Linked DNA regions of Homo sapiens: region 1 is linked to region 2. The links come from fine-mapping of genetic effects on gene expression. A gene starts in region 2. The other region holds a variant in brackets. All regions are shown on one strand. Distances are from middle to middle.

Region 1 (16,363 bases), 330 kb after region 2:
ACTTAATTAACTAGTGATTCCAAGTGCAGGTGCTGTTTCCACATGTGGTTTCAGTGCTGAGCAAACGATACGTCTGACAACTGGTTTGCAGTTGTTACTGAGCCAGGCCCAGGTTTGTTCTGTTCTCACACAGTAAATCAATCACTGTGACATGGGTTTTGCAAAAGAGAGAAGAATTATTCACAAGGCTGTCCAGTGAGGAGATGGGAGAATGGCTCTCAAATTCACCTCCCCAAAGATGAGGCTTAGAGAGATTTATAGGTTAGAGAAGTAGGGTGGTCTGAGGCATGGGGAAAGGTGATTGGCAGTGGGGAAAAATGCAGTCATAATTGGGGTTCATATGACATATGTGCAGAAAATGGTGGCGTTAACATGATCTGAGGGTGGAGTTTTTGGCCCTCTGATGTCAAAAGGCCACCTCTTGGGCATGTGTACAGGCCCAGTTGAAGGGTTGGCAGTCTCAACTGGTTTGAACTGGACAGGATCTGCCCCAAGTTCCTGAAAAATAAGTGGTTGTTATGGTGACTTATAAATGTTATCTATAAGGTAGCACGTAAAAGTTGAGTTACAGTGTTCAATAGCATAGCCTTCAGCTATCGTGGCCTTCAGCTTCATGGGGGAAAAAATAACAAAGAGCAAGCAACCAAAAGCAAGCGGGGCAGGCGAAGTGTGGCACACCCGATCCGATTATCCCCTTGGCTGCCCAGTTACCCATCTGGTGAATGTTTCTCTATACCTGTGAGTAAAGACCATCAGGAACAGTTTGCTTTCAGCTAGATACACCTTCACCACCCTATCTCAAGGCTGCCTCAACTCTGCCGCCCAGCTCATGATCTAGTTCCCAGGTCCTTTGAGAACCTTTTCACCCTCAGGACGACACACTGGTCCATTATATTGATGACATTATAGTCACTGGACCTGGTGTACAGGGAGTAGCAACTGCTCCAGACATGTTGGAAGACACATAATATGACTCAGTGTAGGAAATAAACCCACAACATGGCTAAGGGCAAATAATGTTTCCAAAACTTCTTTCTCTCTTTTTTTTTTCTTTTTTGAGACAGAGTCTCACTCTGTAGCTCGAGCTGGAGTGGAGGCAATCTTGGCTCACTGCAACCTGCACCTCCTGGGTACAAGTGAAGCTGCTTCCTCAGCCTGTTGGGACTACAGGTGTGCGCCACCACGCCCGGCTAATTTTTTTTTTTTTTTTTTTGGTAAAGGCAGGGTTTCACCATGTTAGCCAGCTTGGTCTTGAACTCTTGACCTCAAGTGATCTGCCCACCTCAGCCTCCCAAAGTGCTGGGATTACAGAAGTGAGCCACCAAGCCAGGCCCTTTTTCTCTCTCTTTCCAATAGTTACATTCTATATGTTTAAAAGGGACACGAGACAATTTTGTATGTGATTTTCTGAATCACATAATTCCACATTTAACATTTTGGGGAAATGCCAAACTGTTTTCCAAAGGGGCTGCCTGGGAGTCTCAGCTCTAGTTCTCAGTCCTCAGCAGCCATTCCTTTCCTCAGTGGGGCGTCAGTGCTGCCTTCCAAAGTCCAGGGCTGCCTTGAGACCTGATCAGGACCGGCTATTTTGCCAGGTGCAGTGCATGATGTTCAAGACCATTCAGAATTTCAAGACCCTGACAGCAGAGCAAGATAGCAGGCGGAGGCCATTCTAAGTGTGGGGCCCCGCAGGGCTGCCCAGGCTGCCTGCCTGTGAAGCCAGTCCTGCCTGATGGAGATGCTTTTGCCATGGCGTGAGGGAAAGTGAGCTGATGGTTCTCCACTTTCCCACTCTCTCTCTGCAGGTCCGGCTCCTCTAAGGGCAGAAGCCAGAACTTGGTCCCTGAACCTTCTCCAGTCTCCCTCCCTGGGCATTTCTCTCATAACCCCATCAGACCCCCCAGTAATGGCCTGACGTGGGTTCTGGAAATAGAACATGGGTTCTTAGAATGGCTCTCTGAGACTTCATTGAGTTGTCTGTCCTATTTCTTTCCTCAACAAAATGTCCACATCCTCAATCTCCTGTCTCAGCAGGAAAGATGAAAAGAACAGTGAGGCTTAGGCCAGGCACGGTGGCTCACACCTGTAATCCCAACACTTTGGGAGGCTGAGGTGGGCAGATCACCTGAGAACGGGAGTTCGAGACCAGTCTGAACTCCCTGTCTCTACTAAAAATACAAAAGTAGCCAGGCGTGGTAGCGGGCACCTGTAAATCCCAGCTACTGGGGAGGCTGAGACAGGAGAATCGTTTGAACCTGGGAGGCGGACGTTGTGGTGAGCCGAGATAGTGCCACTGCACTCCAGCCTGGACAACAGAGCGGGAAAAAAAAAAAAAAAGAACGATGACCCTTAGCATCCCAGGAAGCTTTGGGTGGTGAGAGATGGAGAGTATCTCCTTCCTGTGGTACTTCAGTTTCCCGTCTCCTTGTTAGGATGTTGCAAAGCTGGCCTGCTGAGGTCTTCTGTGATCTCCTGTGCTTCCTACACTTCCACCTGAAAATGAACCTACTGCAGGGATGAATCCATGAGCAGAATTTTAATGAAAAGGAAGCAGACACAAAGGAATCCATGGGTTGTAACTCCACCGACTTAAAATGAAAAACACAGGCAACAAAGAACAGGCACGATGCTGCTTCGCCAGCTGGTTCCTTGTTGGGTTCTGCCATTCAGGGATGTAAGAGGGAAGCTGGGATGTTGGAGGACTGGAGTGTGAGGGTAAATTTTAGGTGTCAACTTGGCTGAGCCACAAGGTCCCCAGGTATTTGATCAAACATTATGCTGGGTGTTTCTGTGAGGTTGCTTTGGATGAGATTAACGTTTAAATTTGTGGACTTTGAGGAAAGCAGATTGCCCTCTATCTGTGGGTGGGCTTCATCCAATCACCTGAAGACCTGAGGAGAACATAAAGTCTGGCTGCCCCAGACTCTCTCTCAGGCAAGAGAGAATTCTTCCGCAGACTGCCTTCAGAGTTCATGCACACCATCTACTAATCCTGCTCCACAGCAGGTGCCACTGGGCTCTCACTGGAATATGTATTCTCCTGGTTCTCCAGCCTGCTCATCCACCCTGAAGATTTGGGACTTGCCAGCCTCCTTAATTCTATAAGCCAATTCCTTATCATAAATTCATAAATCCCTCTCTCTCTATCTCCATCCACACACACACACACACACACACACACACACACACAGACACACACACACAAATGAGTGTAGATGTGTTCCAATAAAACTTCATTTAGAGACATTGAAATTTAAATTTCAAGGGCTGGGCATGGTGGCTCAACGCCTGTAATCTCAGCACTTTGGGAGGCTGAGGCAGGTGGATCACTTGAGGTCAGGAGTTCGAGACCAGCCTGGCCAACATGGTGAAACCCCGTCTCTACTAAAAATACAAAACATGTAGCCACGTGCAGTGGCTCATGCCTGTAATCCCAGCTGGGAGGCTAAGATGGGAGAATAGCTTGAACACAGGAGGCAGAGGTTGCTGTGAGCTGAAATGGTGCCCAGAAGACAGAGCGACCCTGTCTCAAAAAAATAAAAAATAAAAAATAAATTTCATATAATCTTCAGATATATTCATTCATTTACATATTGTCTGTGGTTGTTTTCACCCTTTAGGTCAGAAGTAGCCGACAACCTTTACACAGTATTTACCACTGTTATAGACATCTTTAAATATGGTTTACTTTTGCCTGTTTTTGTACTTTATAGAAATGAAGTAATAAAGTATTGTCTGTCTTGCATTTTTTGCTCAAAATTACGTTTGTCAGTTTTATGTATGTCATTGCATGTGATGATGCTGTATTTTCATTATATCATGGTATTCTGTGTATGATGATACCACTGTGGAGCTCTAGCCCACTCTTTTTTTTTTCTTCTTTCTTTCTTTTTTTTTTTTTTTTTTTTTTTTTTTTGAGACGGAGTCTTACTCTGTCACCCAAGCTGGAGTATAGTGGTAGTATCTCGGCTCACTGCAACCTCCGCCTCGCAGGTTCAAGTGATTCTCCTGCCTCAGCCTTCCAAATAGCTGGGATTACAGGCATGCGCCACCATACCCGGCTAATTTTTGTATTTTTAGTAGAGACGGGGTTTCACCATGTTGGCCGGAGTGGTCACGAACTGCTGACCTCAGGTGATCCACCCGCCTCAGCCTCCCAAAGTGCTGGGATTGCAAGCATGAGCCACCGTGCTCAGCCATCCAGCCCACACTTTATGGACATTGGGCTCTGCCTAGTTTTTGTCCTGGCTCACTGGGGATGGCCTATGTCCAGCTCTATGAAATTTGTAGCAGGCCTTTGAGTTCCTTTTAGCAACGCTTGATTGTGCCAGATCTCTCCATGTTCACTAATATCATAGGCTTGCTATGAGAAGCAACACCCAAAATCTTGTCTTTGCTAGCAGCACCAGGGCTATCTCCTACAAAGACTGCCTCTTCAGAGCCACAGCTCACAACTGCCTTGGCTGGGGTGTATGAGTGGCTGATTTTTTTCAAACTTGCAAGGCACCAAATTATTCAACTGTTTGTGTGTGGCAGGCCAGTCAGGGGTTACCTACATTAACAACACTCTGGATCCTTCTAGCTCTCCTTGCACACTGGCAAGCTCCAGCCAGAGACCACTTTTCTCACAGGACTTTGTTAAAAGCAGCCAAGGAGGAGCCAACAAAACCAGCATTCTGGATTCTTGCCGTTTTCCTAATGCCACAGATTTGGTCAAATTATGATCCACCCTCCAAGCTAACACAGGCTGCAACCTGGCCAAACATTTTACATGAGGTGCCAGCCTCCCCATCTCGAGGACGGGGATACTGCTAAACATTCTACACTGCCCAGTGCTGTCGCAACAACAAGGAATTATCCAGTCCCAAATGTCAAGAGTGCCAAGATTAAGGAACACTGCTTTATTTTATTTTATTTTTTTTTTTGAGACAGAGTGTTGCTCTGTTGCCCTGGCTGAAGTGCAGTGGTGCTATCCTAACTCACTGCAGCCTCAAACTCCTAGCCTCAAGTGATCCTCCCACCTTAGCCTCCTGAATAGCTAGGGCTACAGGTGCGTAACACCACACCCAGCTAATTTTTTAAAAACTTTTATGTAGAGATGGGGGTCTTGCTAGGCTGGTTTGAACTCCTGGCCTCAAGTGTTGCTTCTGTCTCGGCCTCCCAAAATGCTGGAATTACAGGCATGAGCCACAGTGCCCAGACCAAAACCGTTCTTTAGCAAGACATTCCTGTAGTCCAGGTCTGCTCATGGTAAACTTTTTATCTTGAAAGTCTTCATAGTTCCCTAATTGTTGAATAATTAGCTGAACGTACAAATCTGAGATGTCTGATTTTTTTCAGTATGTTAATGATACTATTTCATTAAATTTTATCATTTTTAATTTCAATTCATCAGATATTTTCCCTAGCAGCTTTCAAGGTTTATCTTCAGTGTTTCATGCTTTTGCTACAATGTAACTAAGTGTGGATGTTTTCAATTATCCTCTGTGGGATTCAGTGGCATCCCTCACTCTGAGAATTCCTGTTTTCCATCAATTTTGGGAAATTCTCAGCTTTATCTCTTGGATGTAGCCTCCCCTTTCCCTGTGTGATCTCCTAGAGCCTGTCTGTGCTCTGTTGGAACTTTTCCTTCAAATGTCCTGTCACCCATCTCTGGACTCCTTAAGGAAGATTGCACTTCAGATCTTGTTTGAGTTCACTTGGCCCCTCTGCTACCTGCATCTTATCTTTTTTGTGCGTGGGTGATGGAGTTTTGCTCTGTCGCCCAGGCTGGAGTGGCGCGATCTCAGCTCACTGCAACCTTTACTGCGCCCGGCCTGCTAACTGCATCTTATCTGATGTTTAATCTGTCCCTTGAGTTTTTATTTCTAATGATATTTTTCATCTCCAAAATGGGAAAAGCACATGTTAGCACAAATAATGAAACACTGGATATTGTTTTCTAAGGAATTTATTTGAAAGAATTATATCTATGGAAAATAAATATTCCAAAAAAGCTCTGAATTTTAGATGTTGAGATATTTCAAAGGTCAAACCAGGCCACGATTTGTGCTGGGTTGAAGGCCTGTGAGGACCCCATGTGGGACCCCCTGTGTGACGATCACAGCCTGGAGGATGACCTTCTGGGGGCTGAAGGGCATCACATTTTTGGACAAATCATAAATGTAGGAAAGCTCTGGGGCTGGTGGGAGTGGCTTGGGGGATGGGAAATGTGGGGCTCAGTGGCATAGGGAGTGGTACCTGTGGCCCACGCTTTCGGGGAGGGCCTGGGAGGGGGAAGCGCAGGATGCTTGTGTCAGGCAGTAGCAGAGGGCTCCTGGCATCAGCAGGCACCGGGCCAGTGCTTCTTGGGCCACTTTCTCTTAGGCAGCAGCAGGGGGTGTCCCTGGACTCCGTGCCTGTGTGGGAACACGAGATGGGCCTCTGGGACAGGGAGGAGCCACCTCCCCAGCACCACATCCAGACAGGGGTCCACATTGCAGGATCCGCAGAGAAGCAGGAAATGGTGCAGGAGGATCTAACCTGGATGCAGGGTAGGTTATTTGTTCTGTGACTTCATTTGCCCACATGCATGTGAGTAGAGGCTTGTTCCTTGACCCCAATTGACTTTTAGACATCTGAAGGAGAGAAAAGACAGCCTAAGTGAGTTCTCCATCAGTGGGCAATAGAGGAACTCACCCTCATGCTGCACACCTTCAAAGAAACTGTGTGGTCTGTGGACTTCAACAAACTAACCCATGCTCCAGGGGTACAGACTTTGTCAGACAATTTAAAAGCTTTCCCAAGAATAGGAGAGGGCTCATAAGCTGTCCCAAGTGAATTTCTAGGTTTGAACAAACCTTCAGTAAGAAACACGGTGGACACCTCCAAGTCATCCTCTCCTGACACACGTTTGCCAAGGTCCATTTCCTATGAATTGATAGGTTCTATTAGTTTTTATTTATTTATTTATTTTTTGAGACAGAGTTTCACTCTTGCTGCCCAGGCTGGAGTGCAATGATGAGGTCTTGGCTCACTGCAACCTCCGCCTCCCTGGTTCAAGTGATTCTCCTGCCTCAGCCTCCCAAGTAGCTAGGACTACAGGCGTGTGCCACCATGACTGGCTAATTTTTTGTATTTTTAGTAGAGAGGGGGTTTCACCATGTTGGCCAGGCTGGTCTCAAACTCCTGATCTCAGGTGATCCATCTGCCTTGGCCTCCCAAAGTGCTGGGATTACAGGCATGAGCCACTGTGCCCGACCGGTTCTGTTACTTTTATAAGGCATGAAGGGATAATCCTTCCTGGTGAAATCTGAAAGTCCTTACCTTCTAGGTTACTGAGGTTTCGAGGTCTGGGCAGCCGATTGGCTGTCTGATGTGAGGTGGAGAAGATGGGCCTGGTCAAAGGGGCAGCCTTTGGATTGGAACTGGATGCCCAGTCTGTCTGGGAGAAGGAAGGCAGTGAAGGGAAGGACCACGAAAAGGAGTGGCAGAAGACTGGCAGTCCCTTCACCCCACAGCCCTCTGCTTCATTCTCTGGCAGCTGTCCCTGACCTTTGTGACATCGAGGTCCCAGCCAATCACAGCACTCACTCCTGCTGTCCCAACAGCCTCCAAGGCAAATCTCTGGAGACTCCACCCACTGAGCTCCTCCCCTGGGGTTCTCTAAGCACTCTGAATTTGTGGACAAAAGCCCCTTTACTACCAGCATAACTACATACTTCACTTTCACAAGTTGGCATGCCTGGGTGAGGGCAATTATTTTAGTCATATGAGCTTCGATTTCTGGGAGAGTCAAGTCAATTCAGTTTTTGAGAGTGCTCTATATTTCAAGGGTGAATTTATATCTGTTATTTTACTTTATTTATTTATTTTTGAGAAAGGGTCTCGCTCTGTCATCCAGGCTGGAGTGCAATGGCATGATCTCGGCTCACTGAAGCCTCCGCCTCCTGGGTTCAAGCGATTCTTGTGCCTCAGCCTCCCGAGTAGCTGGAACTACAGGCGTGTGCCTCCACGCCCAGCTAAGTTTTGTATTTTTGGTGTAGAGATGGGGTTTCACTATGTCGGCCAGGCTGGTCTCTAACTCCTGGCCTGAAGTGATCCACCTGCTTTGGCCTCCCAAAGTGCTGGGATTACAGATGTGAGCCACCATACCCGGTCAAAATTTTTTATTTTAAATAAGTTATGGAAATGATGAAAACATTTCATTTACAAAATAAATGTGGGCCGGGCGCTGTGGCTCATGCCTGTAATCCCAGCATTTTGGGAGGCCGAGGCGGGTGGATCACCTGAGGTCGAGAGTTTGAGACTAGCCTGGCCAACATGGTGAAAACCCATCTCTACTAAAAATACAAAAAATTAGCTGGGCATGGTGGCACACACCTGTAATCCCAGCTACTCGGGAGGCTGAGACAGGAGAATCGCTTGAACCTGAGAGGTGGAGGTTGCTGTGAGCCGAGATTGTGCCACTGCACTCCAGCCTGGGGACAGAGTGAGGCTCCATCTCAAAAATAAATAAATAAATAAAATTAATGTAGGAAATTTAGGAAGTTTGAATTATAAGAAATCTAATTTTGGTCTGGAATAAGCCAAAATATTGTACTAACATTTTTTAAAAAAATAAACTAATAAGGAGTGAATCATGCTAACATTTTCCTTTATTTTGAAGTTGGCGTCTTTTCTTTTGTCATAGCTAGTTTAAAAGGTTATCAGGGAAATACATTTTCTAGTGTCCATAAAAAATAGTTCAATAACTTTTTTCTTTAGACAATTTAGACTTTACCTGAACTAAAAATTCCTAGAATATATGCATAACGGCTGAATGTAATTTTTGTTAAGTCTTTCATTTTGTTAAGTTTTCAAAAGAGGGAAAAGGAGAGGAAATGGGATAGAAAAAAAATGAGAGGGAGCTGGCTTTAGACAAATAACTAATCATTTTTCTCTGTAAGAAGAGGGATGAAAGTTTAGACATATATACAATACACACACGAGAGTGTCCTATATCTGGTTTTGACATAATTTCAGTTTGTGACAATTCTATCAAGCCATACAATTTTTTAAAAGCCAGAATGTATTAATCTCCAACTTATGGAAAGGAAGGAAGTGATGCCTCCCTGTGAAACAAAATGATCTGTCATTTAGGCAAACAAGACAAAGATTTTCCTCATGAGGGGTCTTTTATTCTTGATATCCAGAGTCTCCTTAAAATGTTTAGCCAAGCCCAGGTGCAGTGGCTCATGCCTGTAATCCCAGCACTTTGGGAGGCCAAGGCCGGTGGATCATGAGGTCAGAAGATCAAGACCATCCTGGGTAACATGGTAAAGCCCTGTCTTAGCTAAAAATACAAAAAAAATTAGCCGGGCATGGTGGCGGGCGCATGTAACCCCAGCTACTTGGGAGGCTGAGGCAGGAGAATGGTGTGAACCCGGGGAGGCAGAGCTTGCAGTGAGCTGAGATCACGCCACTGCACTCCAGCCTGGGTGACAGAGCGAGACTCCATCTCAAAAAAAAAAAAATGTTTAGCCAAATATTGATGTTTATGCAATAGAGTGATTTGCCAGCCAACATTTTTGTTTACCCAACATAGTGACAGTTTTGGACCTGAAGCCTTTCACAAAATGTGGCAAGGGCATTGGAAATGTCAACATTTTAAAGATGCTTGGTCGGGCACGGTGGCTCATGCCTGTAATCCTAGCACTTTGGGAGGCTGAGGTGGGTGGATCACTTGAAGTCAGAAGTTTGAGACCAGCCTAGCCAACATCGTGAAACTCCATCTCTACTAAAAATACAAAAATTAGTTGGGCGTGGTAGCACAGGCCTGTAATCCCAGCTACTCAGGAGGCTGAGGCGGGAGAATCACTTGAACCTGGGAGAAGGAGTTTGCAGTGAGCTGAGATGGTGCCATTGCACTCCAGCCTGGGCAACAGAGTGAGACTCCATCTCAAAAAAAAAAAAAAGAAAAGAAAAAAGAAAAAAAAGATGCACATGAGGGAAAAGATGCT[C/A]CTATTTCATATTAGTTATAGCTAAAGAATATTTTAGAGAAGCATTTTTTGAGTCCAAATTGTGTTTAGGAGCCTCCTCATACCAATTAAAGACAGCAGACCATTGGATATTCAGAATTTTGCTTTGTTTTTGTTTTGTATATATCAGAGTTTCCCCAAAGTGATCACTATAATTCTAAATTATCTTTGGGGAAATTGTACCAGTTAGAAAGCTATGCACATGAAGGGAGCCGGTGTTTGGCCTGAAAGAGGCTGAGTTTTCGATAGAAAAGACTCCATGGGAACTTCAGCGTGTCCACAGGGTGGTACTTGTGTGACACTGCGTCTTGGAGCCAGCCAAAGACTAACCAGCATTCAGGGTTGTCCAAGGCTTGGAAGACAAAGCCCTCAAAGCACACTGATCAAGAGCTGGACGCCATGGTGGGGGCAATAAGCTCTTAAGCTTGCCAATATTCACAGCAAGGGGGTTTCCAAGATCAGCTGGGGGAAGGTAATGGAATGAGTTAGAGTTTCCTGGGGAAACTGCCCCTGTGTGGACCGAGGTGGAGAGGCCCTGGGGAGGAAGGGAGGAAGCACACCTGGCCTCACCAAGCACACTGCCAGAGCAGGTGAGCTGAGCCAGGGAGGGAAGAGGGGACAGAGGCTTCTCCTTCACCTTAGCAATGGCCTCATGCTACGGACAGGCCTGCAGCAGTCTCTGGGAAGGCCCAAGGCTACTAGCACCAATGGGGAAAGGCTGCTGGGCAAGCCCCTGGGGGCTGGGAAGGGATTCATTTCTCACTAAGCTCCAGCAGCCCTGTGGACTGCCCCACATCGGGTGGGCACCATCAGGCAGGTGAGGAGAGGAGAAAAGCCTGCTTGGGTGACCTGGGGCCAGCCCAGGAGGACGACTGTTCCATCTTCTGCCAGCACCATGGGCTGGCTCCATGGGACACACAGCAGCCGCTGGGTCCATAGAGTGGGGAACGTGGTGAGGATTCAAGGTGGGCCTGGGCTGGGCAGTCCCAGTAAGCAGCTGGTGACATGGGGAGCTGCATCTAATTCTCAGGGAGACCAGGGTGTGAAGAGGGTGTGAGGCCCAGCAAGCCAGACCCAGGGGAGTAGGGAGGGGATCACAAGATGTTCCTGATCCAGGTAGCCCTGGCTACCATTATACTGAGCACAAACCAACCTTGTCAGAGGACATTGCCCCTTGTTTATAAATTTGGGTTCTAGAAAAAAACCCCGATGCTGTTTTTTGGAGCCATGTGATGGGACTGCTGGAAACCAGGCAGGGAAAGGCAATGGCAGGCACACTTCCAGTTTTGGGGCATCAGGCACTGTGACAGCGAGGATGGTGCAGGGGTGAGTGGGGAGCTGCCCTGCAGGGGTCTGAGATCACCAGGCAGAAGCTAGGCTGGGATAGGGCGGGAAACGCATTACACAACAAAGATTAGATTGCAGGGGCCCCAGCCTTCTAATGCCCCTCCTGCTCTCTGAAGCTCCCTCCACAGACTCCTCCACCCCAGAACCTTCCGACAGGTAAGCTTCAAACCCTTCATACCTATCCAGTTCCCTAGCTCCTGGCCAGCCTCTAACTGTTCAGCCCCCGAACCCCCTGTTTCCACCCACCCTGAACCAGGGGATCTCTGCAGGTTGTGCTGACTCCCCCATGGCCTTGTGGCCACCAGGGGATGCTGGGGAAATCCTCTCCACCTGAGCAAATCAGAACTTCCTGTAGGACACAGGTGTCAGGATCAGCTTCTGGTTGAGCTGGTTGATATTCTAGGTAGCGCACCTTGAAGTTTCTCAGGATTGACAGTCATTGTGTCTGTTCTAAAGAAGGTGAAGGAATTTGATGGAAAGAAAGTAGGAAGAGTCGCCCAGACTTGCAGGCTGCCTCCTGTACTTATTCTGAGAACGTGTTCACATGGCATAGGCGTTTCCTTTTGTGGCCATTTGTAAGAATGGGAAATGAATGACTTTTTTTTTTTTTTTTTGAGACGGAGTCTCACTCTGTCACCCAGGCTGGAGTGCAGTGGCGTGATCTCGCCTCACTGCCAGCTCCGCCTCCCAGGTTCACGCCATTCTGCTGCCTCAGCCTCCCAAGTAACTGGGACTACAGGCCCCCGCCACCAAGCCAGGCTAATTTTTTTGTTTTTTTTTTAGTAGAGACAGGTTTCACCGTGTTAGTCAGGATGGTCTCAATCTCCTGACCTCATGATCCACCCGCCTTGGCCTCCCAAAGTGCTGGGATTACAGGTGTGAGCCACTGCGCCTGACCAGGAAATGACTTATTCTTACAAATGACCACAGGTGTGGCTGCTTGATACAACACCCATTTATTTATTATTTATTTATTAATTTATTTAGAGACAAGGTCTCCCTCTGACATCCAGGCTGGATGGAGCGTAGTGGTACAATCTCAGCTCACTGCAGCCTTGACCACCCCAGGCTCAAGCGATTCTCCCACCTCAGCCTCCTGAGTAGCTAGGACCACAGGTGGATGCCACCACACCTAGCTAATTTATTTGTATTCTTCTTCTTATTATTATTATTATTTGTAGAGATGAGTTCTCCCTGTGTTGCCCAAGCTGGTCTGGAACTCCTGGGCTCAAGCAATCCTCCCACCTCCCAGTGTTGAGATTATAGGTATGAACCATCGAACCAGCCACAACACCCATTTATTATCTCATACCACTGAAGTCCCTAAGTCAGCAAGTGTGGCTCTGCTTAGGGTCTCACAAGATTAACATCAAGGTTTTGTCTACCTCCAGCTTTTATTGGGAGCTCTGGGGAACATCCACTTCCAAGCTCATTTTGTTGACACAGTTTCCAGTAAGCCCTTTCCATTGTCAAGCCAGCAACAGTGGGTTGAGTCCTTCTCATGCTTAGAATCTCTCTCACTTCTCCTGCTGCTGCATCTATCTCTGTGATGCCAGTCAGAGAAAGCTCTCTGCTTTTTAGGGCTCGAGTGATTAGATTGGGCCACTTGCATAATCCAGGATAATATTCCTAGTTCAAGGTCCATAATTTTAATTACATCTGCAAAGTCCCTTTTGCCATATAATGAAACACAGTTGTGGGTTCCAAGGATTAGGGCAGGGCCATCTTTGGGGGACAATTCTGCTGACCACACATGGTCATGTTTGTGTAAAATTTGCAAGAGTGATTTTTTTGGTCTTCTTTTGTATCAGATTCTCCATCCTTCTCTTAATTGAAGATTGTGTTTTTCAAGCTATGGTTCATCATTGCTGCTTTCCTTACAAAATGAATTCGAATGGCAATCAGCATTTTCTTAAGGAATATAGTAGATTTAATTACATAAAAAGAATTGAAAATATCAGAGACTATTGTACATAACTATTTACGTTCCATGAAATTGTTAGTATACACACACATCCCTGAACTAGGTCAGGACGTAAAGTATACTTAGTATACTTGGTTAAGATGAAAATATTTTGAAAAGACCATTTAAGAAGAAAATGACCCTAGAATTCATCTGGAGCTTCCAGTTAGGAGGCTAGAGCTTCCTGTTCCAGGAAGGCTTGGTGCTCCGGGAGAGAGTGAGTCCCCTGGTGAAAGGTTCAGGCTGAGGGAAGCCCAGGCCCTGGCAGTTCCCCCTGACCCTCCACCCGACATATGGAGGCTGGAAGGCCCACCTGTGTTGTCTCACTTTTCTCCCTTTTAGGTATGTCTAGAGGTCAGTTTGGACAGGGACAGGAACCTCTAGACATGTTTTTCTGGGTGAACGAGATAAGCGGAGAAATCACCTACCCCCCGCAGAAGGCAGATGCACCTGCTGTTTCTCCTGAGAGCCCACAAAAGAAGCCCCCATTTCAGCCCAGGAGTGTGCAGGAGGCTCCTTGCAGTCCCCAGGGCCCGCCTGCACAGAGGCCTGCCCTTGCACCTCCATCTAAGCCTTCTCTGAAAGACTCAGGCTCAAGAAACCCCTGCCCATCTGCACCCACCTGGGCCAGGCCAAAGCCGGAGGAGTGAGGAGCCCCCACCGTTCTCAGCAATCCCTGTCACCATCTCATCACCAGGAGTGACTCTGCCCATACTCGGACCCCTGGGACCAGCCCTTCAGCCACCGGTCTCGACCTCTCCTCTCAGCCCTTCTGCACCCTGGGCCTTCACCTGCAAGCTGAACAATGTCCTTACTGGGAATAACTGGTTTTCCTTTTGAATCTTAAGAAAATTTGTCTGGCTACACTCTTTAAGCACCTTCCTGAGCCACCCGTGGCCAGGCTCTGCTGGCCGCATCTGCCTGGCCCCATCTACCTTCCCTGGAAGCACAGGACTCACCCCAGGGGTCTCACAGGAACATGCCCAGTGCTTTCAAACCCAGTAAAATTTTACTTAGATTTTGACATAACGTTTCCTAGAGCTTCCCTTAACTTCCTTTAAAATACCAAGCCATCTTGGTATTTTACTCTTAATTCTTTGGGCTTCTGACATTGGTGTCAAAGCAATATGTTTAGTTTCCAGCCAGAGCCAGGAGACCTCCTTGGGTGGGAATGGGAACAAGCCAGGATGACGGACCTGCAGGCCCAGTGTCCCTGGGGCACAGCCTGGGGCCTCCTGGGCTTGAGGACAGCACTCAGGGCAGGGAGGGGCTGGGGCCCTGCATGGAGCTCCCTTTTGAGACAGCCTGAGGCTGGAGGAAGCTAGCAGTGGACACCACACTTTTAGGTAGGGTCACCCCCATCCCCAGCTCTGTGCTTTCTCTGGGTACTGCCTTTCAGCCCTCCAGGCATGGAGTGACTCAGGCAGTGTGGGAAGCAGCCCCATCACAGACCTGGCCCTCCTTGATCAGGCTGGTTGAGGGCTGGAGGAAGCCTCGGGGGTACAGGAGTGCATCCTGGGGGAAGGACACAGACCTGGCCTGGGCACACAGAGTGACCTGGTTTGAGGAGGAGCTGCTGGAGAAGCCCCACTAGTGTCCCTGAACAGGTGCTAGGTGGCTCCAAGTTGTACCGGAGCAGCTCCAGGTGAAATGCGTCATCAGGATGGACTTCAAGTACATCAGGAACACTAGAGAGGAGTGGGGCATGCAGAGCAACGGCAGGTAGGTGTGGCCAGAATCGGACGTGCAGCCTGGCCGGCATCGCTGAGCATTAGCCAGCCTTGCAGTGCATCCTCGGCTTTGCCAGTGGAGCACTGTGCCCTGCCACGAGGAGCTTGAGTTGCTGGGTACCAAGGAAGTGGACTTCTGAGGGCAAGGAAGAACAGAGCTACCTAAAAGAGGAGATCCTGGTGCTCCCGGCTCATGGGTGCCTAACCACAGAGTCCTGGTGGAGAAACACCCTCCCCTGCCCCTCAGCAGGCTGCACCAGCCCAGCCCTGGAATCATCACACCCAGGCGGCTCCCAGGTCTCATCTGATTCTTGGCCGGACCCAGGCCTCCAGAGGCTTTCATCCTAGGTGGGGCAGGTCAGAGGTCAAAGGTTAGGGTGTGGCTCCGTGTCTCTTTCCGACTAGGGCTTCTATGTTATTCCAGGAAATGGGCCCATGGTGGACCCTGACCCTTCTGAGAGTTCTCTGAGCTGGGGGCATGGGCCTGGGATCCAACCTCAAATCTGCGGCCACTACGTCCTGTGACGTCGGCAGGATTCTGCCTACCTTGGCCTCAGTTTCCTCCCTGCACAATATGGGAGTGAGCAAGCCAGTCTGTCAAGCCTGCTCAACCTACAGGCTATGACAAACACTGGGAACAAGAGGTAGCATGGAAGTCAGCCCCAGGCTGGGGTCAGCTGATCCCGAGGGCCTGGCTGCTTCTGAGGGTGGGAGAGGGCAGGGCCCATCAGCTCCACAGGGTGGGCGGGAGGACTGGTGTGCACTCCCTGTGCCCCTTGCAGGGTGGCCTTGATGAAGTCCTTGGTGTCACTGCTGGTGGGCACTCATGAGGTGCTCCAGGACATCCACTTGTGCATGGCAACACGGCCAGCAAACAACGGAGAGCAGGCCAGGCTGGAGGGCAGAGGGAGGGCCGGAGCCTGCAAGGTCATCTGGGCCCTGGGCCTTGGAGGGAAAGGTTGCCAGGGCAGGGGCTGTGGGTCTCTCAGGCAGAGTGACTGGGACCAGGGCCTCCAATCCTAACCCAGCATGGGCTCTTAAGCCTCATGCTCCTCCAACCCACAAGAGCCCCAGCCAGTGTCATAGAAATGCCCAGAGAGATACAAGCCCAGCCTGCAGCAGGAATCTGAGTTCATGCTGGGGTGGGGATCAGGGCTCAATGTACACCAGCAGAGTCTCCAGGGCAACAAATCCCCTGGACGAGCCACCGTGCTCTGCCCTGTGGCCTGGCAGGGCCACTTCTGCTGACAGTGGATGTATGAAAAAACCTGGGCAGCAGTTTCCTATCAAAGTTGGCCTTGTTGCCCATTTCCAAGACAGTTATC
Region 2 (16,363 bases):
GCTTTGACATTCATGGGTGGCACCCTTTGATGATCACCCAGGTCTTGGGGATATAAGGACAGAAGAAATGAAAAGGGGCACGTCACTTTCTCCCTCCCTCACCTACCCTGGGTATTCACTAGGAAGAGAAAGGAACCAGGGACACCTGCTCCCCTCTTTCTTGATGGATTGCCATTCATCTTCAGTCTGTGGCCTTTTTGAATACATCCTGAACCCCTGGGACTCCTTTGAAAAAAACACCTTCTTTTTTCCTTTTCCCCTTGTGTCCTCTCTTCACAGATAGGTAATTGTGTCTCCTTACTACAGCACACTCCCCTTGGATCCATCCTCTAAACTGCGAAAAGTTAATTTCCCAAACCTTAAACTTGAGAATAGCTTAGGACTGGGCTTGGGGGAAGGGAACCTCGAAGACTGACAAGCCAGCAAAAGGGTAAAAATTTTTTTTAACTTTTAACAATCAGGCTTTTGGCCTCCCTCTCCCTGTGCAAACCAGTAAAAGGCCTCGGGATTTTCGAGCATGACTTCTGGCATGACTTCTGTCCTTACCCCATCCTTGTTTTGTTTTGATACATGTTTTCTAATAACTCAGTTTGTCTCTTCTCGCCTTCAGGTCATCAAACTCCAGTCGTGCAACTGGAGCCTCAGATAATGGTCCCTTTTGCCAGGAACCTTTAGATTGGCCTCTTAGGGAAATCTGACTGCCATTTTCCCAACACAGCACCCCCTGTCAGCAGGAAGCAGTTAAGATTGGTCTTTGTCCTTATCTTTATTCTAAGGGCAGTTAGATGTACTTCTTTAGAGTGGGGAATGATAGAGACAGGAGACAGCCAAACGCCTGCCGGGTCACTGAAAAATTCTGTCCCTTAACACATGCGCAGTAAGGAAAATAAATCAATGTGGAGTGGCTCAGACTAAAGGCCCACATGCGCCCTGGGAGAATGGAGTGGAGCCACTGGGAATTTGCACCTTATGCAGGGGGAGAAGCCTGGCCTCTTCAGCTGGTGTATCACACTTTTTTTCACTGAGAGCTTCCTTTTAATAAATTCCACTCTCCTCATCTTTCGATGTGTCCGCGTGCCTGATTTTTCCTGGTCATGCAACACGAACTTGGATTTTAGCTGAGCTAAGGAGCAAAAAATCTTGCATCAGTGGTTTTTTTTTTCTTTTCTTTTCTTTTTTTTTTGAGACGGAGTCTTGCTCTGTCACCAGGCTGGAGTGCAGTGCCACGATCTTGGCTCACTGCAACCTCCACCTCCCAGATTCAAGCAATTCCCCTGCCCTCAGCCTCCCAAGTAGCTGGGACTACAGGGTGCACCACCACGCCTGGCTAATTTTTTGTATTTTAGTAGAGACGGTGTTTCACCATGTTGGCCAGGATGGTCTTGATCTCCTGACTTTGTGATCTGCCCGCGTTGGCCTCCCAAAGTGCTGGGATTACAGTAGTGAGCCACCATGCCTGGCCTGTTTTTAAATACTAGGTACAAATTGATGATTCACAAATTTAAACCTTCCTGGACTGCTGTCCTGAGCTCCACACTCCTTTTTTTTTTTTTTTTTTTTTGAGATGGAGTCTCGCTCTGTTGCCCAGGCTGGAGTGCAGTGGCGCAATCTCCGCTCACTGCAAGCTCCACCTCCCGGGCTCATGCCATTCTCCTGCCTCAGCCTCCGGAGTAGCTGGGACTACAGGGGCCTGCCACCACGCCCTGAGAATTTTTTGTATTTTTAGTGGAGACGGGGTTTCACTTTGTTAGCCAGGATGGTCTCCATCTCCTGACCTCATGATCCACCCGCCTCGGCCTCCCAAAGTGCTGGGATTACAGGCGTGAGCCACCACGCCCAGCCGAGCTCCACACTCTTACAACTTATTACCTATTTGATATCTCTAACTGGATATGCAGTGGGCAATGAATCAAATTTAATGTGTCCAAAATTGAGCTCCTGATCACCCCACCTCTAGCCCAAATGTGTTTCTACATCTCCGTTAACTCCATCTTTCCAGTTGCTTAGGCCAAAAACCATATAGTCATCCCTGACCCTGTTCTTTCTCACTCTTCGTATCCAATCTCAGCAAAGCTTTGGCTCTAATTTCAAAATATACCCACAATCCAACAACTTCTTGCCAAATCCACTGCCACAGTGTAGAACCAAGCCAGCAATATCTCTTTATTGTGTTATTACAATAGTCTTTCTGCTTCTCTTTCTCCCCCACTCTCATCTTTTCTCAACCTAGCGGGCAGAATAATTCTGTTAAAAAAGAGTTCAGAGATTGACTTCTGACATGACATTATGAGGAATTCCACTGACCCACTCCCCAGTGAAACTGGTGAAATTTAAAAAAAGAAAGTTGGCCGGGCACGGTGGCTCACACCTGTAATCCCAGTACTTTGGGAGGCCGAAGCGGGCGGATCACGAGGTCAGGAGATCGAGACCACCCTGGCTAACACGGTGAAACCCCGTCTCTACTAAAGATACAAAAAATTAGCCAGGCATGGTGGCAGGCGCCTGTAGTCCCAGCTACCCAGGAGGCTGAGGCAGGAGAATGGCGTGAACCCAGGAGGCGGAGCTTGCAGTGAGCCGAGATCACGCCACTGCACTCCAGCCTGGGAGACAGAGTGAGACTCCATCTCAAAAAAAAAAAAAAAAAAAAAGAAAGAAAGAAAAGAAAAGAAAATTAAAGCCTCTGGAAATGTTCCCAAAGACAAACAGCAAACCAAGAAACATCTGTTCAAGAACATTCATGAAAATTCATCAAGAAAGTTGATCCTGTGTTATTTGAAACAAGATTGCTGTCTCCCTCCCATCTCAGCAAGGCAAACACTCCACTGTAGATTGCAGCAGCCAAGAACACAGGGATCCCTCCAGCTCCTAATTGCAAGGGGTTCCTCCACAGAGTAGCAGGATGTCAGTGTATCATTGTGTCTCCAGCTAGCTACCTGATGCTCAGATAAAGTCCCAGACAAGTGTGGTTGAGAGGTGAGGGCTCTCCCTTCTCCCACACAGCCCTCATCTTGCAACTGCATGCTAAGAACACTGGGGCCCTGATCACCCTTGCCCCAACTCATTAGGCAGTGGTTCTGCACAAGGAAAGGAAAGTCTAGAAGGTGGGCTGCTACACTCCCCACCTTCCCCACAAAATGCTCAGCAACTACAAAGGGTATCACTCAGAGACAAGACTGCCATTATCCCCATCCCCAACTCAAGTCCCCAGGCTCTGAGATTTTGCCTAAAGGAAGAATCAGCCCATAAACAGATAACTCCTAATCTCTTCCCAAAGGAGCTGAATTCATTTGCAACAAAGCATAGAGAAGTTCAAACCTGTCTAGGTGTGGTGGCTCATGATGTAATCCCAGCACTTTGGGAGGCCGAGGCAGGTAGATCATTTGAGGTCAGGAGTTTGAGACCGGCCTGACCAACATGGTGAAACCCCGTCTCTCTACTAAAAATACAAAACAAAAATTAGCTGGGCATGGTGGCACATGCCTGTAATCTCAGCTACTTGGGAGGCTGAGGCAGGAGAATCGCTTGAACTCAGGAGGTGGAGGTTGCAGTGAGCTGAGTCCACGCCACTGTGGTACAGCCTAGGTGACAGAGCGAGACTCCGTCTGGGGGAGAGGGGGTGGAGAGAAGTTCAAACCTAAGGGCACTCTCAGGAACAGTGTAGGTTTTAGTGAAAGTAATTAGGAAGACATTCAAGATACAAGCTAAATTGCAGGCCTGTTCACTTGCAGAAGACAATGGGGATATAAGACAATTAGGAGTAGCTACACTGGAGTCACAAGAAATATGAAAGAAAACCTCAAAAACTACTCCTTCAATGGAGCAAGAATTGAAGTAGTTTGTAAGACAATTTATGCCCAGGGCATTGTTAAAAAACAATAGAGCAATCAGCTAACAATTACTGGAGTTTAACAGCTGTGTGCAGTCATAGAAAGAAAGAGATCCCTACCAAAACCACTGTCATCCCAGGATAAAGGTGGGCATATCCAAAGCTGGAGCTTTGGATTCCTGAGGAGCAATATCAAAGGCTTAACAGTATAGGAGGGAAATAGACTTCACTAAATTGATCCAGCCAGTTGCTAAGCAAATACACAAGCAAACAACAATAAGAAGCCCCAGAAGGTAGGCTGCCAGCTCTTCATTTCTGCAGAGATCTCTGTAACTGATCAGATGGAAAATGATTAGATGGATACTGATCTGCACTTATGTGCAACTTTCTGGTAAATCTAAAAGGAACCCAAAGTAAAATGTTTACTTGATAAAAAAAGAAGAAAAGTTAATAAGCAAATAGCGAGAGAAAGTGAAATTTAAAACTACACAAATGTAGATAGTTCTGGCATTATTTCTAATTGAGATCTAAGGAAACATCATTGAGAAGTGCTAGGATTTGAACGAAGGCATGCTAAATCCAGATCTCCTACTCTTAACCACCTCAATATGCTACCTCTTGATCAAAGGTTAAAGAGAGTATAAAAGTTTATCATGTGGCTGTCATAAAATTTTGACATTTAAAGGAAGTCTAGGCTGGGTGCAGTGGCTCACACCTGTGATCCCAACACTTTGGGAGACCAAGGTGGGTGGATCATTTGAGGTCAGGAGTTTGAGACCAGCCTTGCCAATATGGTGAAACCCTGCCTCTACTAAAAATATAAAAAATAGCCAGGCTTGGTGGTGGTTGCCTGTAGTCCCAGCTACTCAGGAGGCTGAGGCAGGAGTAATCACTTGAACAGAGATGGAGGTTGCAGTGAGCCAAGATCGCACCCCTGCACTTCAGCCTGGGTGACAGAGCAAGACTCTGTCTCAAAAAAGAAAAGAAAAAAATGAAGTCTATAGGCATTCACTGTAAAATTCTTTCAACTTTGAGGTCCTCTATGTGTCCATCTAAAAATATGCTTAAGTCTATTCTCAGTAGCTTTATTCATAACAGCCCTAACTATAATAAAAACCCAAATGTCAATCAACAGGAGAATAAACAAATCATGGTATACTCACATAATGGAACACTACACAGCAATGAAAAAGAACTGCTGCTACATACAATGATGGACAATGATCACAGACATAATGTTCAGTTGAAGAAACCAGAATAAAAAAAGAATACATACTGTACCATTTATATTAAGTTCAAGAATAGAAGCAAAACTAATCAGTGATAATAATAATCAGAGTAATGGTTGGGGATCAGGTAGTTATTGACTAGGAAGGGTCACAGGGAACTTTCTGGAGTACAGGAACAGTTCTATTTCTTGATCTGGATGGTGGTTACATTAGTGTATTTATATGTAAAAATTTGTTGAATAATATTAAGATTTGTGCCCTTAACTGCATGAAGCTATACCTCAACAAAACAGTAAGTCTTTTAAAGAGTCTTCCTGCTTTAAAACAGACCATTGGATGCTTTACTCTGCAGTCTAGATAAATACTCATCAGTCATTTGCCCAAACATGATTGGGTTCAGAAAGGGAATCTTAGGCCAGGTGCAGTGGCTCACGCCTGTAATCCTAGCACTTTGGGAGGCCAAGGCAGGTGGATTGCTTGAGTTCAGGAGTTCAAGACCAGCCTGGGCAACATGGTGAAACCCTGTCTCTACTAAAATACAAAAAATTAGCAGGGCATGGTGGTGCACGCCTGTAGTCCCAGCTACTTGGGAGGCTGAGGCACGAGTACTGCTTGAACCCAGGAGGTGGAGATTGCAGTGAGCCAAGATTGCGTCACTGCACTCCAGCCAGCCTGGGTGACAGAGCAACACTGTCTTTAAAAAAAAAAAGGGGGGAATCGTATATTTCACTTTTTCATTTCTCTGATTTCACAGTCAGCAACTCATGGTGTCAATGATGTCACTAGAGATAGCCTTCATGGGGCCGGGTGTGGTGGCTCATGCCTGTAATCCCAGCACTTTGGGAGGCCAAGGTGGGCAAATCACGAGGTCAGGAGATCGAGACCATCCTGGCCAACACAGTGAAACCCCGGCTTTACTAAAAATAAAAAAATTAGCTGGGCATGGTGGCGCGTGCCTGTAATCCCAGCTACTTGGGAGACTCAGGCAGGAGAATCTCTTGAACCCGGGAGGCGGAGGTTGCAGTGAGCCAATATCGCACCACTGCACTCCAGCCCGGCAATAGAGCAAGACTCTGTCTCAAAAATAAAAAAGAGAGAGAGAGATAGCCTTCGGGGCACAAAGTAAAAGTTGCAAAGACCACTGCACGGGCTCTCTTCTCCCATGTGTTCCCACTTCATGCTCCAGGCCTCTGGGCTGCTGGGAATGCAAGAAGCACTTTAACTGGGAAGTCATCAACCTCAATTTTGCCAACAAACTTAAAGGAGTGGAAAAGTTCCCCATGGCATCACCACCATCATAAAGGAGAGTGCTCCCACCACTTTAGAAAGGTTCTCAAATTTGGTTTTCAGACAAGAGCCCTCAGTCACATACATATATCTCATTAAATAAGCAGATGTTTTACTTATTTAACAGGCATCAAATTTTTTGCTTGAGTCCAGATTTAGTGACTGATCCATAAAGTGGAAACAAAGAACAAACAGTATGATTGTTCAGAAAGCAGGATGAACATTTCTCTCCAATAAGGTACCATTTTGTGAGCTCATAGTCCTTGAATACTGAAAATGATGAAAGGAAAAGGAATATTTTATATGCAAAAAGGTAGCATAAGGAGGTGTTCCGATTAGGTGTGATCGACCTAAAAGATTAATGAAACAACAAACCCATCAAAAACGACTACAATTGACAGAAAGCTAGAAACATTAACGGCGTTGGAAAGCTCAAATGACAGAAGTTCACAAATTCTTAATCATCTAATCCAGGCCTCTCCTCATTACCATTCAGACCACTCACAAAGATCCCATTAAATCAGCTCATAATCAGGTTTACAAAAATAAGACTCCTTAAGAGATGTGGCAATGTGAGAAGTGGAGCACGTACACAGGCACAGCAAATGACTACGTTAGTGAAAACTGTAGGGTTTATCATAAGCAAAATGACAGTGCTCTCCTCCGTGAAAAAGAGAAAGAAATCGGACGGGTCTCCTTTAAGTGAAAATAGAGACTGTGAGAACATAAAGACATTGCTGACATCTGTGTTTTAACATTCCATTTATTTAAGGAAAGAGGAGAAAGAAATGTTTGGAATATAAATAAACCCTTCCCTATAGGAAGGTCAGAAATGTAGAAATACGCAGAAGCTGGTGGGAGCAAAAGCCGATCCTGAGACAAGGATATCTAGAGAGGTAGCCCTGGTCGGGATGTGGGAAGAGGCCTGCGAAGAAACAGCAGAACCAAGGGAAAGAAAGGGAAGAACGTCAGGTCCACTGCTCATCCCGAGCGCCTAGAACTGCGCCAGACTCCTGGCATGCGCACAGGACACTGAAGGAAGGGATGAGCTTTTCGGCTAGCGTATTGTCTTTGAGCGACAGAGCGGGATTCCCAAACGTCCCCGCCGGTCACTCAGCTCCTGCAGTTCATGCCTAGCAAGAACCTTGCGGGCGGTCCGAGGCTGCCATCCTTTCACAGCTGTATTTGGGGGCAAAAATAGGGTAACGAAGCCGGGGGCCCAGACTTACTTTTGCAGCCGGGTGCCATAGCGCCCTCACCCCTCGATCCCGAAAACAATGCAGCCGGTGCCTCCACCTCCCGACTGCACCGCGCGCGACTGAATTCCGCCCGCTCAAGATGGCCGCAAATTTGAATTTGGCGCTTGGATCGGACGTTGACGCCCGCATGGAGGCCGCCATGTTGCCCGGCCTACGCATCGGGGGCGTGGCCCAGTGACGTCACAGCTAAGCGCCTCTGTATCGTCGCGAATCCGTCGCGGAACCTGTCTTCTGTCTTTACCCAGAGCTACCATGAGCAAGCGGAACCAGGTATCGTACGTGCGGCCAGCCGAGCCGGCGTTTCTGGCCCGCTTCAAGGAACGGGTCGGCTACAGGGAGGGACCCACCGTAGAGACTAAGGTGAGCCTTCGCCAGTCGTGTTTCTTCGGAAGCGCAGCCAGCCCGCCACTTTCAACTTTTGCCTCTACTTGGAGGGTGGGTGCTGTCGGGTCCCTCTTTTCACCCGCGCTCGAACCCAATTCCGGTGGAACTCGGACCCCCAGGCTGGTTCTTTTCAAGCGACCACAGCCCCCTACGCCCAGGAAGCTCTGTAGTTTTCAGAGCGCTGCTGTGTTCCTGAAAATGAACTGACGTGTAAACCACCTGGTCCTTGGTAGATGGTAAAGAAAGATCACTTTATTGTCTCTTCTTTCTCACTTGTTTACCTCAAAAGCTGTGAGTTCGCAGGGTGAGTTAGAGTTACAGCGTCGTCCCGTATTCCAGATAAGGACACAGGCCACTCGATCAAATGACCCCCGCCCCAACCATGTCCTAGGACTCGAGTCTGGAACGTCTTCGGAGGAATGTCCTGAATCTGTTTCTATGCTTTGTTAATTAAAAATAAATAAAAATAATATAGAGAAGGTCGGGCACAGTGGCTCACGCCTGTAATCCCAGTACTTTGGGAGGCCTAGGTGGGCGGATCACCTGAGGTCAGGAGTTCGAGACCAGCAGAGCCAATAGCCAATATGGTGAAACCCCCCGTCTCTGCTAAAAATACAAAAATTAGCCGGGCATGGTGGCACATGCCTGTAGTCCCAGCTACTCCGGAGGCTGAGACAGAATCGCTCGAACCCGGGAGGTGGACGTTGCAGTGAGTTGAGATGGCGCAGCTGCACTCCAGCCTGGACAACAGAGCGAGACTCCGTCTCAAAAAAAAAAAAAAAAAGCCGGGCCTGGTGGCTCACGCCTGTAATCCCAGCGCTCTGGGAGGCTGAGGCGGCAGATCACGAGGTCAGGAGATCGAGACCATCCTGGCTAAAACAGTGAAACCGCGTCTCTACTAAAAATACAAAAAATTAGCCAGGCATGGTGGCGGGCGCCTGTAGTCCCAGCTACTCGGGAGGCTGAGGCAGGAGAATGGCGTGAACCCAGGAGGAGGAGCTTGCAGTGAGCCGAGATCGCGCCACTGCACTCCAGACTGGGCGACAGAGCGAGACTCCGTCTCAAAAAAAAGAAAAAAAAGAAGAGTAAGCAGAAGCCGTAAATATCCTGGGTCTAAATAGAAGAAGAGGAGCTTCAGGAAAGAGCCACACCTGACTATTGTTGTCTAGGGCCGGAGGGATCAGTATTGAACACATGAATGACAAGAAAGCAAAACAGCTACATTGCTGATACAGAGAAAGTTTTAGTGGTCTGGATAGAAGAGCAAACCAGCCACAACATTCCCTTTAACCAAAGCCTAATCTAGAGCAAGGCCCTAACTCTTAAATCCTGTGAAGTCTGAGACATGTGAGAAAGCTGCAGAAGAAAAGTGTGAAGCTAACAGAGGTTGGTTCATGAGGTTTAAGGAAAGAAGCCATCTCCATAACATAAAAGTATGAGATGAAGAAGCAAATTATTCAGATCTAGCTAAGATAGTTGATGAAGGTGGCTACACTAAACAGGTTTTCAATGTAGATGAAACAGCCTTCTATTGGAAGAAGATGCCATCTAGGACTTTTTTTTTTTTTTTTTTTTTGAGATAGGGTCTCACTCTGTCGCCCAGGCTAGAGTGCAGTGGTGCAATCACAGCTCACTGCAGCCTTGACCTCCTGGGCTCAAGTGATCCTCCTGCCTCAGCCTCTCAAGCAGCTGGGACTACAGGCATGAACTAACGCATCTGGCTAATTTTTGTATTTTTTTGTAGAGACAGGATTCCACTGTGTTGCCAAGGCTGGTCTCAAACTCCTGGACTCAAGCAATCCTCCCACTTTAGCCTCTCAAAGCCTCTCAAAAACCACTATGCCTGGGCCATTTAGGACTTTCATAGCTAGAGAGAAGTCAGTGCCTGGCTTCATATTTTCAAAGGACAGGCTAACTCTCTCATTAGGAGCTAATGCAGCTGGTGACTTTTAAGTTGAAGCTAATACTTACCATTCCAAAAATCCTAGGGTCCGTAAGAATTATGCTAAATCTACTCTGCCTGTGCTCTAGAAATGGAAAAACAAAACCTTGATGACAGCACATCTCTTTATAATATGGTTTACTGAATTATTTTTAGCCCACTGTTGAGACCTACTGCTCAGAAAAAAAAAGATTCTTTCAATATATTATTGCTCATGGACAATACACTTGGTCACCCAAGAACTCTGATGGAGATCTACAAGGAGATTAACGTGGGGTTTTCATGCCTGCTAACACAACATCCATTCTGCAGCCCATGGATCAAGGAGTAATTTCTATTTTCAGTCTTATTATTTAAGAAATAACAGCCAGGCGCAATGGCTCACACTTGTAATCCCAGCACTTTGGGAAGTCAAGGCAGGTGGATTGCTTGAGCCCAGGAGTTCAAGACCAGCCTGGCCAACATGGTGAGACCCCATCTCTACAAAAAATACAAAATTTAGCCCAGTGTGGTGGCATGCACCTGTGGTCCCAGCTACTTGGGAGGCTGAGGTGGGAGGATTCCCTGACCCCAGGTAGGTTGAGGCTGCAGTCAGCCATGATTGCACCACTGCACTCGAGCCTGGGTAACAGAGCCAGACCCTGTCTCAAAAAAAAAAAAAAAAGTCAAAACCATTTGTAAGGCTACAGCTGCCATGGATAGTGATTCCTCTGATGCATCTGGATATTGTAAATTGAAAACTTTATGGAAAGGCTTCACCATTCTAAACACGTTAAGAACATCCATGATTCATGGGAAGAGGGCAAAATATCAACATTAACAGGAATTTGGAAGAGGTTGATTCCAACCTTCATGGATGACTTCGAGAGATTCAGGCCTTCAGTGGAGGAAGTAATTGCAGGTGTGGTAGAACAAGCAAAAGAACTAGAATTAGAAGTAGAGCCTGAAAATGTGACTAAGTTGTTGCAGTCTCATAAAAATTGAACAGATGAGTTGCTTCTTATTGATGAGCAAAAAAAGTGGTTTATTGAGATGGAATCTACTTCTGGTGAAGATGCTGTGAACATTGTTGAAATGTCAATAAAGGATTTAGAATAAACTTACTTGGTAAAGCAGCAGCAGGTTTAAGAGGACTGATTCCAATTTTGAAAGGAGTTCAGCTGTGGGTAAAATGCTATGAAACAGCATTGCAGCATCACAAAAGAGAAATCTTTTGTGAAAGGAAGACTCAATGCAGCAAACTTCATCGTCTTATTTTTAAAAATTGCCACAGCCACCCCGCCTTTCAGCAACCACCACCCTCATCAGTCAACATCCATCAGCATCAAGGGCAGACCCTTCACTGGCAAAAAGATTAGGACTCACTGAAGGCTCAGATGATTTTTAATGTTTTTAGCAATAAAGTATTTTTAAATTAAGGTAGGTACATCTTCCAGACTCCTGTTAATGTTGATATTTTGCCTCCTCCCATGAATCGTGTACTTAATGGGATCTAGATTTTTTTAGACATAATGATATTGCATACTTAATACTAACTGTAGTTAGTGTATAGTGTGAACATAACTTTTATGTGAACTGGGAAACCAGAAAATTTGTGTGACAATTTATTTTGATACTTGCTTTGTTGTGGTGGTCTGGAACCAAATCTGCGGTATCTTCAAGGTATGCCAGTAGAATGAGTATGTGCTAACCCCATGCACTGTCGCAGGCTCTGAAAGGACGAAGAGATGGATCTCCAAAATGCCATGTTCTTTAACACTTCCTGCCCTATTTTCACAAGTTACCATCTCTCCGAAACCCTTCAAAGCTCTCCAAACAGTTACTCTTTCTGTTTTTCTCTTTACCTTATCCATATCTTATCTATAACATTCATTTTATATTGCAACTACTTGCTTTCCTGTTTATCTTCACCACTAGATTGAACTCTTTAAGTTAGTATCTTAATCCTTCCGTATTTTCCCAGCACCTAGCACAGTGCCTGGCACGAAGTAGTGGGTAACAGTTGTATTTGTTGGTGACTGTGCTGTTATCAGGTTAGACTTCGTGGAGGAGGGATATTTAGATAGACTCTCGAGCATGGTTAGGTCAGCAGGTAGAGATGAAGAGAATGGCATGGGTAAAGGTGTAGAGATTTGAGAGTCATGGACTGTATGTAGAAGTGTTAGAGGGGCTAGTGGAGGTGAGGCCATGTGGACTATTTAGTAAGCAACAGGGAGCCATTTTTTTCTTAGAGGTAACACAGGGAATGACTGATCCCCATGACTAAAAATAGGGATGATGACAAAGAGGGTAAGGTTTGAGAAAAGGGACATAGATTGAGCGATGAGGAGAAGATGAGACCCAGCTTTACCTTGCTTGAGGTCCTGGTGATGACCCTGTATGCACAGTTGACAGCTTGAAGGTTACAGCTTGGAATGCTATCTTAAGAGAACTTCGGGAATCCTTTCCAAGTAATATCAGTGATTTTCGCTTATTTATGTACTCAAGGGAATTTCCCTTAGAGAAGTACGCCATGTTTCAGTGTGAGAACCACTTCATTTTTAATCAGTTTGGCAATATACAGTATTCCCCCATTATGTTCCAAGACCCCCAGTGGATAATACTGAATTCTATATATACTATGTTTTTTCCCATACATATATACCTATGATGAAGTTTACTATATAAATTAGGAATATCAGCAGATTAGTAACTAATAATAGAACAATCATAACAATATACTCTAGTAAAAGTTGTGTGAATTTGCTTGTTTGCTTGCTGTCTCTAAATATTTTATTGTACTGTACTCACCCTTCTTTCATACTACAGTTGACCACAGGTAACTGAAATTGTGGAACATGAAATTGAGGATAAGGAGGGGACTACTGCAGTCAGGATTTTAGTCATCTATTAACAAAAAGAAATGAGTTTCATGGGAAATCATTCCATAATTAAGCTAAATCATCCTATTCACTTTTATTTTTTTTGAGGCGGAGTCTTTCTCTGTTGCTTAGGCTGAAATGCAGTGACTCGATCTCAGCTCACTGCAACCTCCACCTTTTGGGTTCAAGCAATTCTCCTGCCTCAGCCACCCAAGTAGGTGGGATTACAGGTGCCCACCACCACACCGAGGTAATTTCTGTATTTTTAGTAGAGACGGGGGGTTTCACCATGTTTGCCAGGCTAGTCTTGAACTGCTGACCTCAAGTGATCTGCCTGCCTAGGCCTCCCAGAGTGCTGGGATTACAGGCATGAGCCACTGCGCCTGGCCCTATTCACTTTCTTGAGAGTTAATTCAGAAATGTCTCTGAACAGTCATCAGTGGCTACTGCCACTGTCCTTAGACTATTTCTCTTGTTTTCCAGGCAGTCACATTTAAAAAGAAAAAAAGAGAAGAGAGTCAGAATTAATTATTCTCAATTTAACAAACAAAAGGAATGATTTTATTTCACTTTCCCATATTTTTGGCTAAAAATACTTACTACCTATTTGTGGTCATTTATTGGAGACTTTCAGAGAAAAATTGGCAGAAACTGATGAATAATCAGTGAACTAACATAGATACCATTAAAGAGAATGTACTTGTGCAGTGATAGAGCAGACTTGAGAACTTGAGTTATAGTTAAAATGGCACAAGCAACTTGCCAGGGCTTCATGTAGTTCATCATTTTCCATTCTGTTGGTCATTCATGAGTAGATCAACAAATATTTCTGGAAGTCCCTGCTGTTTTCCAGGCTTTGTGCCTCTCCAGAAGGCACTTGCCCAGTGGAAACCAGCAGAAAAACATTGGTACCACAGTGCAATACATGCTACCTATGAGCTATGCACAGTGTAAGAAACAAGAGAAGGTGAGATTTAGGTAAGCACTTCTAGAGGCTCTAAATCTGGAAGGCAGCTTGAGTAGGAGTTGCTCAGGGGCTGTGGGGCTTAATAAGCCGTAGGAATTTGTTCAGAGACAGGGGAAGCAAAGGAGCTAATATATTTATAAATCTCCAAGTACTCAAACCTTGCCATGCCAGAGTCTAGATGCCATGAGAGAGTGGTACAGGATAAAGCTGTGGTTATGGGCTGAGGCTAATTCTTGCAGGGCTTTGTCGCCTTGTTTGGGAGACCAGGAAGTCTCTATGAGAAGTGGAGTAATGAGTGATTGTGTTTGAATAACATATGAAAACATATTTTGGTATGCATACCTTTCAACCCAACAGTTCCACCTCTAGTGAACTGTTAACATTAAAAGTTCTTGCATACAAGTTCCCAAAAGTGAGCAAAAATGGGTGCATGAGGTTTTTTCATAGTAGAAAAAAATCTGGAAACGAGCAAAATTTGTATTTACAAGATGCTGGTCAAATAAATCTTGAGGTGACCATATATGTAATTAAATGCAAGGCAGTGATTTTTTAAAAATCAGATAATTCTATATCTTAAAGTACTGTACAAAGATATTTTTTGAGTTAAGTTGTGGGAGTGGGGCTCTTACGGTGTCTCACATTTCAAAAATCTGAATCAACTGGCAAAATATTACCATCTGTTACACATATACAGGGAGTACATGGTTTCTGTTATGTTATTCTCTGTACTTTATGTTTGAGAAATTTCATAAATAGGGAAAAAGCAAGTCACAGGAATAAGTACAGTGTTGTTGGTATACAAAAAGTTTTATGTACCTACATAGTTGTATAGACGTGGAAAATAGCTGATAGAATATCCACCAAACTGAAGCTATTAGGAGGGGGAAAAGATGAGCAGAGGTGAGAGAGAGAGTACGTTTTACTTGCTGCTTTCTGTACTTTGATGGTGTTTATTTCTTGTCTAACTCAGAGAAGAGACAGGCAAAAAGTGCTGATGAGGAGCAAACAACTGACATGGCACAGTGCTGCCCTGAGTAGGCTAGGAGTGACAGCAGTACCCAAAGCAGAGGGTCCCTCACACTAGTAACTACAAGCTGGGTCCTGCTGAGATGGAAATGAATCCCACCGGACAGGCACTCCAGGCTGAATGGCAGTTAAACCTGTTCCCTTGTGTGGCAAGCTAAGTCTCTTTGGAGTTACCTTAAAATTCATTGCCCTTATTTACTCAATAAAGATACCCTTCTCATAAATAATTACAGTTTCTCTTAGAGGCAGTGGTTCTGTTTGTCTCAAGATCAGTGATCTACACATTGTATTTGTGTTTTTCCCTAGAGAATTCAGCCTCAGCCCCCAGATGAAGATGGGGATCACAGTGACAAAGAAGATGAACAGCCTCAAGTGGTGGTTTTAAAAAAGGGAGACCTGTCAGTTGAAGAAGTCATGAAAATTAAAGCAGAAATAAAGGCTGCCAAAGCAGGTAGGTCTAAAAGTAATCTGGTTTTTCTAACAATTTAAGGAGCCCAGGGTATGAAATTGTTTATTTTATTTAGTAGTGTGGTGTGTTTCAAGGTGGCAGTTCCGGGTTCAAGCCTTAGCTTTGACACTTACCAGATGTGTAACCTTGAGCAAGTTATTACACCTCTCAGCCTCGATTTCCTCATCAGTAAAATGGAAATAATTGTACCTATTGGGTTGTTACCAGGATTAAGTGTGAATTTAAGTAAAAGCATCCTATTTTTTTTTTTTAAATAGATGGTTAGACTTATAAACCAGTCAAAAAAGGTGTATTTCATTACTGCCTGAAGTTTGGTATGATATGTAGTATATTTTTCATTATTTCTGAACATTTACTACATTGCTTTAGGGGAAAATGCTGTAGTTCCAAACAGTCACTTTTCAAACTACTTAAAAATACAACCTGATTGTAATTGGGAACTGACAATATTATAGAATACTTTAGCATGTGAGTTTTTATTAAGTAACTGCATGCCTTGAGGGCAATATAGCTAGAAACAATGGAGAAGACCAGACTGAATCAGATTCAGGGATATCCTTAAATACAATATGAGATTTTCTTATTATTTGCTTCTAAGGTAAAGGCAAAATAATGAGGAGAAGAAAGTTCTTAAAAATTCTGTTTTTGCTCAGATGAAGAACCAACTCCAGCCGATGGAAGAATCATATATCGAAAACCAGTCAAGCATCCCTCAGATGAAAAATATTCAGGTTTAACAGCAAGCTCAAAAAAGAAGAAGCCAAATGAAGATGAAGTAAATCAGGACTCGGTCAAAAAGAACTCACAAAAACAAATTAAAAATAGTAGCCTCCTTTCTTTTGACAACGAAGATGAAAATGAGTAAGTGTAAATATTTTGAATTTAGTCTACTTTGAAAGTATATGGAGTGTTCATTAAAATCACATTTTTTCCTATTATAAAGATACTACAAGTTCTTTATAGAAAGTTTAGGAAATAGAGAAAAAAATTTAATAAACTACATCTATTCATCAATACCCCTCTGACTTAAAATGCCAACTCTATAGAAATTAGCTAGTATTAACATTTTGTTATTTCCCTTGTGTGGTTGTATATATATGTAAATTATATTTT

Evidence for each region.
Region 1: its variant is fine-mapped to the expression of KIAA1143 in whole blood (INTERVAL, PIP 0.94).

Annotation. Positions count from the first base shown.
Region 1 is chr3:44,419,101-44,435,463 of GRCh38, reverse strand. It overlaps LINC01988 (long intergenic non-protein coding RNA 1988), which reads right to left and starts at 7,542. Exons shown (of 4, transcript NR_144436.1): 1 at 7,306-7,542; 2 at 6,840-6,909; 3 at 6,523-6,617; 4 at 5,935-6,398. ZNF445 (zinc finger protein 445) reads left to right here. Exons shown (of 8, transcript NM_181489.6): 8 at 1-3,759. It also overlaps the pseudogene C3orf86P. RefSeq lists an enhancer at 10,481-10,620. The variant C/A (reference allele first, on the strand shown) is at 9,981.
Region 2 is chr3:44,753,093-44,769,455 of GRCh38, reverse strand. KIAA1143 reads left to right here and starts at 7,837. Exons shown (of 3, transcript NM_020696.4): 1 at 7,837-7,961; 2 at 15,088-15,232; 3 at 15,904-16,363. The coding sequence starts at 7,854. The coding sequence ends at 16,115. It overlaps KIF15 (kinesin family member 15), which reads right to left and starts at 7,662. Exons shown (of 35, transcript NM_020242.3): 1 at 7,572-7,662. The coding sequence starts at 7,590. RefSeq lists enhancers at 7,612-7,891, 8,682-9,324.